2 separate regions of the Homo sapiens genome follow, and region 1 is linked to region 2. A link means that fine-mapping ties the variant in region 2 to the expression of a gene that starts in the linked region. Tissue or cell type: whole blood. Region 2 holds a variant in brackets; the other region holds the start of a gene. All regions are shown on one strand. Distances are from middle to middle.

Region 1 (2,897 bases), 32 kb before region 2:
GGGTTGATCAATTCAGGGGGCCAGGCCCTGGAGAGCAGGTGGAGGGCACGGAGCTTTCAGGCTGTGAGCCAGGGTGAAGGAGTGGGGTCTGGGGTCAGGTTAGACTCATGCCAGCCCTTGGGGTGTTGGAGAGAGAAGCAGAAACCAATGGTCTGTCCCCAAACAGCATGGAGGTCAACGGCCCGGAATAGACATTCACCCTCAGGTGTGCCCCACTGGATCCGACCTCCTCTAAGCAGTGACTCCCTACCAGGATAAGGGAGCCGGGCAAGCAGAGAGGGGAAGAGAGAAAGACAGAGAGAGATAGAGAAAGACAGAGAGAGTGAGAGAGAGAGAGAGAGAGAGAGAGAGACAGACAGAGAGAGAGAGAGCGCGCGAGCCAGCCATCTTGGCAGCCATTTTGAACCCCTCCCCCTCCTGCCCCCAGGCACACATGTTGGGAAGTGGGATGTGGGAAGACAGACCCCAGCTCTGAGTCCGGTGGAAGCCAGGCGGAAGGGGGGGCCCTGCCTGGAACTGGGATACAGAAACACCCACGCAGCTGGCATGGCTGGGGGTGGATGGGGGTTGGAACAGGAAGAAAGGGTCCAGGCAGGTACAGTGAGGTGTTGGCCAGGGATGGGGCAGTGTGAGGACCCGGACTGGAAGTGTAGAGACAGGGGTGTGTGTAGCCAGCGGCTGTCTTCAGATGGGGGCCAGGGGTGCACTGGAGAGATACCTGGGAGGGCATTTTCTGGACACGGCTGGAGCAAACACAGCATCCCCCCACCCCACCACTTCAGGCCTGGACTCGGGTCCCAGGACCGTCAGATGGGAGGATGACAACCAAACCCTCGCAGCTCAATCCAATGCGCACCTGGGGTGGGGGTGGGGAGCTGTCCTCAAAGCACGAATAATCCGAGTGGATCAAACCTGCCGGCCTCCCGTGCTTTAACCCGGCACCACGGAGAGAAGGTGCTGCCCGGCTGCACCCCCTCCTCCTGACAGCGGCGCCCCCCGGACTGCGGCCGGCTGGACACCCAGACGGACCCCTCCCCATCCCCCGCGCCACTGCCTCCCAGAGAAAAACAACCCCCTCGCCCAGCATCCTGTGGTGCCAGCCCCCGACACGGCTCCTCTGGGGCGCGGGGCCGGCGCGCGGCGCGCACACGCACCCCCTCCGCTCACACCCAGACACCTACACAAACAGGGCGCCAAGCACCCGCGCGCACACGCACCGGGGACACGCAGGCACCGCCGCGCCGCTTCCCCACAAAGGCTGGCGCGCGCGCGGGCACACGCAGCCACGCGCGGGCACACTCGCGGTCCCCTCCCCCCGCCAGGCACCCTGCGGTAGCCCGTCCGCACCCCCGCGCCCCGGGCGCTCCGTGGGGGCCGCCCCTCCCAGGCCCCTCGCCAGTGGGGGTGAGGTGCGGGCTGCCCCCGACGCCCCTCCCGCTCAGGTGCGGTGCCCCGCGCGGCTCCCGTGTCCCCTCCCCCCTCGCGGCCAGGACAGGCCCCGGCCTCCCATCCTTCCCGCCTCCCCTCTTCCACGCGCCCCGCACACCTGGCCCAGGTGCGGCTTCGCCCCTCGCCCTGGGCCCGCAGACACTCACCTGTCCAGCGCCTCTCTGGGGTCGGCCCAGCGTGTCTCTCCTGCGGCTCGGCGAACCCGGGCCCCCCGCCCGGCACATCTCCCGGAGCCGGGGCTGGGGGGAAGCGGGTAGGAGGTGGCGGGACGAGGGCGGCCTCCGTGTCCCTTCCTTCCCCTGGCCCAGCACCGCCGCCGACCAAAAATTAGGAAAAAAAAAAAAAAAGAAAAGAAAAGAAAAAAAAGAGGCGGATTACACGGATCCAAAGGCGGCCCCCTCGCGGCGGCGGAGGCTCGGGACTGGGGGCGATCGGGTCTGCGCCCCTCCCGGGGAGGGAGGCGGTGGGGCGGGGGCGGCGTCAGAGCGCCGGGGGCTGGGGCGAGGCGGAGCGCCCCGAGGCGGCGCCGGCAGCGGCCCGCATCTCCCCCGCAGCTCCGCGGCCCCGACGGAGGCGGCACGTGTGCGCCCAGGCGACTTCCCAGCCCCCTCCGACGCCGGCGGTGGACGAGGGGTTAACGGGGCAGCCGGGGCGCCCCTGCAGGCCCCCGCCGCCCGGCGGCGCCGCTCCGGGGCCCGCGCGGCCCCATCAGCCGGGGCCTCCTCGGCAGACGGCGGGGCGGGGGCACCGCAGCGCCGACAGCTCCCGCGCCGACGGCTCGGGCTCCCCGCAGTGGCCGCGGGGAGCTCGGGTTGGGGGCGGGCGGCGCGGAGCTGGCGGAGGGGGGCGGCGCGGCTGGAGGCGGGTGCCGCGGCGTCGCGCCCCCGGTGCGGCCGGAGGGGGGGCGCCGGGCCGGGCCCGTGGGCACCGCAGGACGCGCGGACCGAGCCGGCGCCGGGCACCAGCAATGACAAGCCGCCTGCTCGCCCCGCTCCCCGGCGCACCCGCTCCGGGAGGGGGGCGGTGGGCGCGCGCAAAACCCGGCCCGGAGTCGCCGCCCGGGACTGGCCGCCGCAACCCGCTTGAGCGCCCCAGGAGCCGGCCCGAAAACCCGGGCTGGACTTTCCTTCCTTTCGCCTCCTCTCGCCTCCTCCCTGGAAAAGCAGGGAGAGGGAAAGCGACGTGCTGGAGCCCCGCGTTGGAGCGGGGAGTGGGGGAAGGGAGACAGGCGTAAGGAAGACCCGGAGCGGATTTTCCAGTGAAGTATAAGGAAAGGCGCCGAGCCCGGGGAAGGAGGGCGCAAATGGGGAGATCTGGAAGGGTTGTGCAAAACCCGAGTTGGATTAGATAAAGATGGGAGGAACGGTGTTGGAGCGGGGGGTTGGGGGGTAGATGCGACATGGCCAAATGCACCCGGGGCACGCAAATTTCGGGCCGGATTCTTTCTC
Region 2 (2,897 bases):
TTCACGCCATTCTCCTGCCTCAGCCTCCTAAGTAGCTGGGACTACAGGCGCCCGCCACCACGCCTGGCTAATGTTTTTTTTTGTTGTTGTTGTTTTTGTATTTTTAGTAGAGATGGGGTTTCACCATGTTAACCAGGACGGTCTCAATCTCCTGACCTCGTGATCCGCCCGCCTTGACCTCCCAAAGTGCTGGGATTACAGGTGTGAGCCACCACACCTGGGCTTTTTGTTTTGTTTTGTTTTTTGAGACAGAGTCTCACTCTGCAGCCCGGGCTAGAGTGCAGTGGCACGATCTCTCCTCATTGCAACCTCCGCCTCTTGGGTTCAAGTGATTCTCTTGCCTCAGCCTCCCAAGTACATGGGATTATAGGCATGCACCACCACGCCCAGCTAATTTTGTATTTTTAGTAGAGATGAAGTTTCACCATGTTGGCCAAGCTGGTCTCTAACTCCTCAGCTCAAATGATCCACTCTCCTCAGCCTCCCAAAATGCTGGGATTACAGTTGTGAGCCACCACACCCAGCCAAAAATTTTAAAAAATTAGCCAGGCATGTGGCACACACTTGTAGTCCCAGCTACTTAGGAGGCCAAGATGGGAGGATTGCTTGAGCCCAAAAATTGGAGGCTGCAGTGAGCCATGATTGTGCCACTGCACTCCAGCCTGAGTGACAGAGTAAGACCCTGTCTCTTAAAAAAAAAAAAAAAAAGATGAAGTCTTACTGGACTAGAATGAGCCCTAAATCCAATGACAAGTGTCCATCTAAGAAGAGGAGAGGACACAGAGACACACAGAGACCATGGAAGCCTCTCCATGGAATGACTGGAATGATGCAGCTTTGAGTTGAGGAACACCAAGGATTACAAGGAGCTACCAAAATCTAGGAGAGAGACAAGGAAGGATTCTTCCCTAGAACCTTCAAAGGGAGCCCAGCCCTGCCAACACCTTGACTTTGGACTTTGAGCCTGCAGAACTGTAAGAGAATAACAAACTTATGTTGCTTCAAACCACCAAGTTTGTGGTAATTTATTGCAGCAGCACTAGAAAACTAATACAGTTGGGTGCTTCAGAAGTGTACCTGAGACACTCTGATTTGAGTAAAAGTGGTTTATCTGTAAGGTGATTGCAGGGAGTGCTGGCAGGGGATGGAGGAGATGAGATGCAGAAGGGAGGGCAGCCAGTACATCATGTGGAAATGAGCAGGTTATTCTGCGATATCTAGGTCTTAACTCATCTTGGACAAACCCTGAGAGTTATCTTATGCAAAGGGTGAGGGAGCTGGGGTATTTATCCTCCAACTCCCAGCCATTGTTAGTTGAGGTATGCTAGCAGGGAAAATGAATTCTCCAGAACTTCTGGCTGCCTGCATGCACCAGAGCAAAGCTGTCAGGCAAAGAGTCACAGGTACAGGTGGTATGAAGCCACTGGATTGACGTGCATGGTGTAGGGACAGCCTCTAAGATGGCCCTCAATGTTCCAACCCTTGCATTAATGCCCTACCCTTGAGTGTGGTTAGACTCTATGACTTGCTTCCTGCCCATAGAATGTGGCAAAATCGATGCAATGTCACTTCTAAAATTAG[G/A]TCACAAAAAAGACCACGCCTTTCATCTTGGGTGCACTCCCTTTTTTTTTTTTTTTTGGAGATGGAGTCTTGCTCTGTCGTCCAGGCTGGAGTGCAATGGTGCAATCTCTGCTCACTGCAACCTCCACCTCCCGGTTCAAGTGATTCTCCTGCCTCAGCCTCCCAAGTAGCTGGGATTACAGGCATGGGCCATTATGCCCAGCTAATTTTTTATTTTTACTAGAGATGGGGTTTCACCATGTTGGTCAGGCTGGTTTTGGACTCCAGACCTCACCCACCCACCTCAGCCTCCCAAAGTGCTGGGATTACAGGCGTGAACCATTGTGCCCAGCTGGATGCACTCCCTTTCTTGCCCTCTCTTCTGCTCACTCTGAGGGAAGCCAACTGCCAGGCTGTGAGCTGCCCATCGGAGAGGGTCACAAGGCCAGGAACCAGAAGAGGCCTCTGACCAACAGCCAGTGGGCAACTGATCCTGCCAACAACTCATGAGCTTGAAAGTGGATCCTCCCCAGTCGAGCTTTCAGATGAGATCATGGCCTCAGTCACCAACTATTTCTTTTTAATTGAGATGCATCCATGCCCATTTGCTTTTTGTTGTTGTTAGTTAATTAATTAATTAAAAAATAGAGATAGGGTCTCACTCTGCTGTCCAGGCTGGAGTGCAGTGGTGCGATCAATAGCTCCCTGCAGTATTGAACTCCTGGGCTCAAGGGATCCTTCTACCTCAGTTTCCCAAGTAGCTGGGACTATAGGTGCATGCCACCACACCTGGCTAATTTTTTGTTTAGTTTAGTTTAGTTTTGTTTTGAGATGGAGTCTCACTCTGTCACCTAGGCTGGAGTGCAGTGGTGCAATCTCGGCTCACTACAACCTCCGCCTCCTGAGTTCAAGTGATTCTCCTATTCAGCCTCCTGAGTAGCTGAAACTACAGGCCCATGCCACCATGCCCGGCTAGATTTTGTATTTTTAATAGAGATGGGGTTTCACCATGTTGGCCAGGCTGGTCTCAAACTTCTGGCCTCAAGTGATCCACCTACTTCAGCCTCCCAAAGTGCTGGGATTATAGAGGTGAGTCACTGCACTGGCCTAAAATTTATTTAATTGACAAATTAAAATTGTACGTATTTATGGTGTATGACATGATGTTTTGAAGTACATATACATTTCAGAATGGCTAAATGGAGTGAATTAACATATATATTACCTCACATGCCTATTTTTGTGTGTGACAAGAACACTTAAAATCTCTCTCAGTGATTTTCAAGTATACGATACATTGTTATTAGCTATAGTCACCATACTGTAGAAGACATCTC

Evidence for each region. PIP is the estimated chance that this variant, and not a neighbour inherited with it, causes the effect.
Region 1: ADGRL1 starts here. The variant in region 2 is fine-mapped to the expression of ADGRL1 in whole blood (TOPMed, PIP above 0.99). The same link has a PIP of 0.9 or more in blood mononuclear cells.

Annotation. Positions count from the first base shown.
Region 1 is chr19:14,204,390-14,207,286 of GRCh38, forward strand. ADGRL1 (adhesion G protein-coupled receptor L1) reads right to left here and starts at 1,780. Exons shown (of 23, transcript NM_014921.5): 1 at 1,596-1,780. RefSeq lists silencers at 2,394-2,453, 2,474-2,573.
Region 2 is chr19:14,236,260-14,239,156 of GRCh38, forward strand. No RefSeq gene overlaps it. Among named protein-coding and RNA genes, the nearest start is that of ADGRL1, 32 kb to the left of the region's middle. The variant G/A (reference allele first, on the strand shown) is at 1,582.